Linked DNA regions of Homo sapiens. The protein of the gene in region 2 interacts with the protein of the main gene of each other region in a biochemical or structural test. Each region holds a gene or a part of one and is shown on either strand. Other genes may lie near its edges.

Region 1 (3,649 bases), on a different chromosome or scaffold from region 2:
TGCTGGGGTGTGGCAAGAATGAAATTAAACAGGGCTTGGCACAGTGAAGCACGGGAAAGGCTTTCTACAGAGCAGTGACTGTTGTTACTCGCTGTTACACCTTAGGTAATGCGTTTTCCTCTCTGGGTGCCTCCCATTTTCTGGCTCAAGTCCCTGCCCAGGATCAAGCTTGGAGGAGGGCCCCGAGGGAGGGGCCACAGAGACTGGGTGAAGAGCAAGGGTGTTTGTCCCAGGAGCATGGCGAAAATTGCTGCTGGGTGGCCTTGGGAAGCACAAAGGGGACCCAACTAAGGGCCTGATCCTACTGCCCTGGGGGTGTCAGTGCCAGCCCCCCACAAATCTTTTCTGCCCCCCCCAGGAGGCTGACCAGTGTGTGGCCTGTGCCCACTATAAGGACCCTCCCTTCTGCGTGGCCCGCTGCCCCAGCGGTGTGAAACCTGACCTCTCCTACATGCCCATCTGGAAGTTTCCAGATGAGGAGGGCGCATGCCAGCCTTGCCCCATCAACTGCACCCACTCGTGAGTCCAACGGTCTTTTCTGCAGAAAGGAGGACTTTCCTTTCAGGGGTCTTTCTGGGGCTCTTACTATAAAAGGGGACCAACTCTCCCTTTGTCATATCTTGTTTCTGATGACAAAAATAACACATTGTTAAAATTGTAAAATTAAAACATGAAATATAAATTAATGCCCTAGCAGTTCTATCCCCACTGTTAATAATTTGAAATATTTTTCCTCTAGTTATTTTTGTCTGTGCACATTCTAATATGTATATATAAGTTAACATATATTAATATTATTCTCCAGTTATTTTTATCTGTGCACATTTTAACACACACACACACACACACACACACACACATATGTATTTTTAGACGGAGTTTCACTCTGTCGCCCAGGCTGGAGTGCAGTAGTACAATCTTGGCTCACTGCAGCCTCCACCTCCTGGGTTTAAGCAATTCTCCTGCTTCCGCCTCCTGAGTAGCTGGGATTACGGGAACGTGCTACCTTGCCTGGCTAATTTTTGTATTTTTAGTACATAGGATTTCACCATGTTGGCCAGGCTGGTCTCGAACCCCTGACCTCAGGTGATCTGCCAGCCTCGGTCCCCCAAAGTGTTGGGATTACAGCGGTGAGCCACCATGCCCAGTCATATATTTCTTTTTAACAAATAGAATCATAGATCATACATATTGTTTGCAAATTGCTTTTTCTCACTTTCCAGAACCTTGAAATGTTTTTCCATGTTCTAACATGGTGATCTACCTTATTCTTTTAATTTTTCTTATTTAGTTGTCTTTACACATGAAACACATGAATACATCCTTGTGATAAACATTTTCAGTAACATAAAAGTATAAATGTTACAAAGCCAACGTGCCCTTTCACTCAACTCCCTGTCCACCCAGTCTCTCCTGTCTGCTGGGAGAACCACCGCATTGACTTGTGTGTTCACCCTTCCAGGCTCTTTTCTGCACACTTATATAGACATACTACATTTATATTAGGTCGAGTCAAATAAGATTGCTGTTTGTGTAAACCAAAAAGTGTCAAGAGCCTGGGCGCAGTGACTCACACCTGTAATCCCAGCACTTTGGGAGGCTGAGGCAGGCAGATCACTTGAGATCAGGAGTTCGAGACCAATCTGGCCAACATAGCGAGACCCCGTCTCTACTAAAAATACAAAAACTAGCCAGGTGTGGTGATGCTGTTCTGCACTTTGCTTTCCCCCCGACTTGAGGTATCCTTTCTTGTGAGTACAGACGGATCTACCACCTTTATTTTTTTTTTAATTACTCAACCTGTAACATGGATGTAATTTCACTTTGTTTTTGAGGGATATTGAGCTTGTTTCCCTGTTTTTGCAGTTTATTGCAATTGAGCTCCACACACAAGTGAGCCCTCTTTTGTATGCCCCCTAGTGGGAATACAGTGCTGGCAATGTTTATCACAAGGATATATTCATGCATTTCAATTTAAAGACAACTAAATGAGAAAAATTAAAAGAATATGGATCCAGGCTGGGCATGGTGGCTCACGCCTGTAATCCCAGCACTTTGGGAGGCCGAGGCAGGCAGATCACCTGAGGTCAGGAGTTCAAGACCAGCCTGGCCAACATGGCAAAACCCCGTCTCTACTAAAAATACAAAAATTAGCCAGGCGTGGTGGTGGGCGCCTGTAATCCCAGCTATTTGAGAGGTTGAGACAGGAGAATTGCTTGAACCTGGGCAGCGGAGGTTGCAGTGAGACGAGATTGCACCAGTGCACTCCAACCTGGGCAACACAGTGCAACTCCTTCTCAAGAAAAAAAAGAAAAAAAAAAAGAATATGGGTCCAGATCCATATGGATCCTAGATCCAGATCACGGTGTTAGAACATGGAAAAACATTGCAAGATTCTGCTAAGTGAAAAAAGCATTTGCAAACAGTATGTACAGTCTATATTCAGAGGAGGAACTGCTGGGTCATAGATGATATTTCATAGGTATTGCCAAACCGTTCTCTGGAGAAGTGGTATGGGTTTACCCTGGGATTCTTCTATGGAGGGAATAGTTGAGCTCCCGGGCTTGCTCTTCTGGGTGCCCCTCCCCGCTTCCTATCCACCACAAGGAGCTGCAGGGGAGCGGGGCATGCCGGTTCCTTGGCTGGAGAAGGAGTCTCCTTGTGAGGTGGTAGAAGGAGCACTGACGGCCTTGAGCCCAGTTTCTGCCTTTGTCAAATGGGGATAATGACCCAGCCACACCCCTCCCAGGGTTGTTGTGAGGCTGGAAAGGTGGTTCCCAAGAGGGTGGTTCCCAGAATTGTTGATGAGACTGTTTCTCCTGCAGCTGTGTGGACCTGGATGACAAGGGCTGCCCCGCCGAGCAGAGAGCCAGGTTGGCCTGGACCCCAGGATGTACCCTTCATTGCCCTTCACTCCCCCACTGGATGCTGGGTGGTCACTGCTGTAGGGAGGGGACCCCCTGACATATGTCCCTTCCCACCCACTCTTCCACTGTGGAACCTCCTGTCATTTTCCACTTCACCAAGTGACAGAGGACCTGCTCAGATGCTGAGGGGAGGGGACTGCAAGGAAAGATGGCTAGGAAACCCAGTCCCTCCACACCCTAGAGTAACTTGATGCCTTGTGAGGGACACAGGCAAAGTTCAATTCCTTGGAAGTCAAGGGAGACTGAGAAGAGTACAGCTGCAGCACTGAGGGAGTGATGAATTCTTAACTGGGGATGGTGGGAGGCTTCGAGTGGGAGGTGGCATTTGAGCTAGGCTTTGAGAGAGGAGCAGGTATTGCACTTGCATTTAGGTAGAAAGCATTGGGGTGCAAGGTGACACTGGAGGGGGAGGCATCAGGAAATCCAGGATGTCTTCAAAGTTCTGGTGTCGGGGGCTGTTGAGTAAGCACAGGAATAAGGGGGTCAAGTTAGAGTCAGGGTGGGGTCTGACCTGGATGCCATAGGACCTGATCCCCAAGCCACAGGGTGGGACTTGACTGGGCAGTGGGGACCTTTGGAAAGGACTTTGGGGAGAAAAACAGACTGGAGTCTGTCTTAGGCGATCATCGGTCCGTGAAATGAGCATGTGTTACAGGCTTGGTATGTACCAGACCCTGTGCTAAGCAAGGGGGTATGGAGAGGAGAGGGTGACAAGAATATTG
Region 2 (3,649 bases):
TTGGGAGGCCAAGGTGGGCAGATCATTTGAGGCCAGGGGTTCAAGACCAGTCTGGCCAACATAGTGAAACCCTGTCTCTACTAAAAATATAAAAAATTAGCTGAGCACAGTGGCGCACGCCTGTAATCCCGGCTACTTGGGAGGCTGAGTCAGGAGAATCACTTGAACCTGGGAGGGAAAGTTACAGTGAACTAAGATTGCACCACTGTATTCCAGCCTTGGTGACAGAGTGAGACTCTGTCTCAAAAAAAAAAAAAATGTTTAGACTTACAGGAAAGTTGCAAAGATAGTAGTGTTCCTTTACACATGGTACCCAGCTTCACCGAAGGTTCACATCTTACGCTGCTGTGTACATTGGTTGTAGCTAAGGAACCAGCACGGGTACATCACTATTAGCTAAACGCCACTGTTCCTTTGGCTTTGCCAGTTTTCCTCTAATGTCCCTTTTCTGTTCCAGCTCGCCCCCCAGGATACCACATGAGGTTTAGTCGTTACGTCTCCTTAGGCGCCTCTTGGCTGTAACAGTTTCCAACCCTCTATTGCTGATAGCCTTGGCAGTTTTGAGGAGTACCAGTCAAGGATTTTGTACAATGTCCAGGGACACCTTTTTGCCTTCACATTTGGGTGTCATGTGGGCTGGTAGCAGGTCACTCTGAGATCCTTGAAAACTCTGACTCAGACTGGCATTGACAGATTGGTGTTTTATTTCCAGAGGGCTCAAAACCTTCAGAGAATTTCTCTGCACCTCCTGTGCCTTGGTGATATTTTGCAAGTTAAAAAGAATTTGTCCTTTGGCAAAACCCCATTGCTACAAAAAATACCAAAATTAGCTGGGCGTGGTGGTGTACGCCTGTGGTCCCAGCTACTCTGGAGGCTATGGTGGGAAGATCGCTTGAGCCCAGAAGACCAAGGCTGCAGTAAGCCAAGATCGCACCACAGCACTACAGCCTGGGTGACAGAGCGAGACCCTGTCTCAAAAAAAAAAAAAAAAAAAAAAAAGTTCTTTTCCTTCACAGCTGGCTTAATTCCTACTGTGCTGTTGAGGCTGAAAGGTCACTGTGTTCTACTCACCTGCCAGGCTCCATCTTTGACTCAGGTATGCATGACAGGACCATATGGCTTTCATCTAATTGCTCTCTCTTTGGGATCCTGTTACGTGGTAGGGCCTTACTCTAGAGCATGAGCAAAACCGATGTGATACTGGCCCTGAGGGGCTCACGATGTGGGTGGAGGAAACCTATGGTTACTCTTTCATTCATTCGACAGATATTTATGGAGCACCTACTATGTGTTAGGCACATGCTAGGTTCTGGGGGACCAGGCGGGCCTAGTGGAGGCTGTTGAGGAAATAAACCCACAGATGAGCATGGAATTAAAAATGGTAAATTGTGTTCTAAAACTGGTAAACTGTGTTCTAAAGGAAAAGCAATGGGGTCTCTGGGAGGATAACTGAGGGGTCCCGGTTTGGCGGTTTGGGAGAGTCATCCAAGAATCCTTTGAAGTAACGTTTTCAAACTGACTGTGGCGTAACATGCAGACCTGGAAGTGCGTGAAGTATGAGACACATCTGAAGCTCTGTGTTTCCGTGTGTGTGCAACGCAAGTGACCAGCACCCCAGAGGGCTCCTTCATGCCTCCCCCAGGCCAGTGCCCTGTACCCCCATACATACCACCTCTTATCACCACAGGTTCGATTTCTCTGTTCTTGAACATCATGTGAATGGAATCACACAGTAGGTTGCCTTTGTTTTATTTTATTATTTTATTTTGAGACAGGGTCTCACTGTGTCACCTAGGCTGGAGTGCAGTGGTGTGATCATGGCTCGCTGTAGCCTCAACCTCCCAGCCTCAGGTTATTTTTGTGCCTCAGCCTCCCCAGTAGCTGGGATCACCGTCACGTGCCACCACTCCCAGCTAATAAATAGGTTGCCTTTTATTTCTGGCTCCTTTTGCCCAGCATAATGTTTTAGAGATTGATCACATTGATCGTACATGTCAATAGTGTCTTCCTTTTTTTTTTTTTTTTTTTTTTTTTTGAGACAAGGTCTCGCTCTGTCACCCAGCTGGAGTGCAGTGGCTCGATCTCAGCTTACTGCATCCTCTGCCTCTTGTCCTCCTGGGCTCAAGCAGTCCTCCCACCTCAGCCTCCCGAGTAACTGGGACCACAGGCACGTGCCACCACACCTGGCTAATTTTTGTATTTTTTGTGGAGATGGGATTTCACCATGTTGTCAAGGCTGGTCTCGAACTCCTGGGCTCAAATGGTCCCCCCACTTCGGCCTCCCAAAGTGCTATGATTACTGGCATGAGCCACCACGCCCAGCCGGGTTTGTTTCTTTTGAGTACTGAATAGATTCCATTGCACAGCTGTCTCCATGTCCCACAACTGGTTTATCCCATCCTCTGTTGATGAATATTTGGGTTGTTTCTATTTTGATTTATGAATAAGGCTGTTATGAAGTTTGCATCTAAGTCTAAATATGGACACACATCCTTTCATTTCTCTCAGGTGGATTCCTAGAAGTGGCATTGCTCAGTCATAGAGTAGGTACATGTTTACTTTAGAGAAATTGCCAGACTTTTCCCAAAGCAGCTGCACCATTTTGTGTCCCACCGGCAGTGGGCGAGAGTTCCGGGTGGTTCCACTTCCCCACCAACACTTGAGCACTTGGTGGGTTTTTTTGTGTTTTGTTTTGTTTTTGTTTTGAGACGGAGTCTCGCTCTGTTGCCCAGGCTGGAGTGCAGAGGCACAATCTCGGCTCACTGCAACCTCCGTCTCCTGGGTTCAAGCTGATTCTCCTGCCTTAGCCTCCCAAATAGCTGGGATTATAGGCGCGTGCCACCACACCCAGCTGATTTTTGTATTTTTAGTAGAAATGGGGTTTCACCATGTTAGCCAGGCACTTGGTGTTAAGAGTCACCGGTGGCTGCGTTCCTGGATCTCAAGGTGGCTTTACTTTGCGTTTCCCTGATGACTCATGGAGGTTAAGCACCTTTTCATATGTTGATTGGTCATCGGAATTTGGTCGTTTGTGAAGTACATGTTTTTATTGTCTGTCTAGCCTTTTTTAAATTGATTTGTAAAAGTCGTTATATATTTTGGACAATTTCTTTGCGTTTTAAAAGTCATTTCCTACCTTTATGGCCTGGCTTTTCATGAAAAGCAGTTTTGTTTTTTTTTTTTCTTGAGATGGAGTCTCACTCTGTTGCCCAGGCTGGAGTGCAGTGGCGCAATCTCGGCTCACTGCAACCTCTGCCTCCTGGGTTCAAGTGATTCTCCTGCCTCAGCCTCCCGAGTAGCTGGGATTACAGGCGCATGCTACCACGCCTGGCTAATTTTTTGTATTTTTAGTAGAGATGGGTTTTCGCCATGTTGGCCAGGCTGGTCTTGAACTCCTGACCTCGTGATCCACCTGCCTCAGCCTCCCAAAGTACTGGGATTACAGGCGTGAGCTACCTCACCTGGCCTCAATTTTTGTATTTTTAGTAGAGATGGGGTTTCACCATGTTGGCCAGGCTGGTCTTGAACTCCTGACCTCAGGTGATCTGTCCGCCTCGGCCTCCCAAAGTGCTGGGATTACAGGTGCGAGCCACCACGCCTGGCCAGGAGGTCACTTACTTTCATTCTAAGTAAATCACTGGGCCTTCCA

What was found. The genes of interacting proteins can lie anywhere in the genome.
Region 1: the proteins of SH2B3 (region 2) and ERBB2 form a complex in vitro, tested with the Homo sapiens proteins (2 studies listed by BioGRID and IntAct, with this or other methods).

Annotation. Positions count from the first base shown.
Region 1 is NC_000017.11:39,716,962-39,720,610, forward strand, and holds part of ERBB2 (receptor tyrosine-protein kinase erbB-2 isoform a precursor), read left to right. Parts: intron 1-105; coding exon of another isoform or gene 106-207; intron 208-358; coding exon 359-519; coding exon of another isoform or gene 520-523; exon of another isoform or gene 524-696; intron 697-2,825; coding exon 2,826-2,873; intron 2,874-3,649. UniProt on the Homo sapiens protein: Protein tyrosine kinase that is part of several cell surface receptor complexes, but that apparently needs a coreceptor for ligand binding. Essential component of a neuregulin-receptor complex, although neuregulins do not interact with it alone.
Region 2 is NC_000012.12:111,419,393-111,423,041, forward strand, and holds part of SH2B3 (SH2B adapter protein 3), read left to right. Parts: intron 1-1,016; exon of another isoform or gene 1,017-1,096; intron 1,097-3,649. UniProt on the Homo sapiens protein: Links T-cell receptor activation signal to phospholipase C-gamma-1, GRB2 and phosphatidylinositol 3-kinase.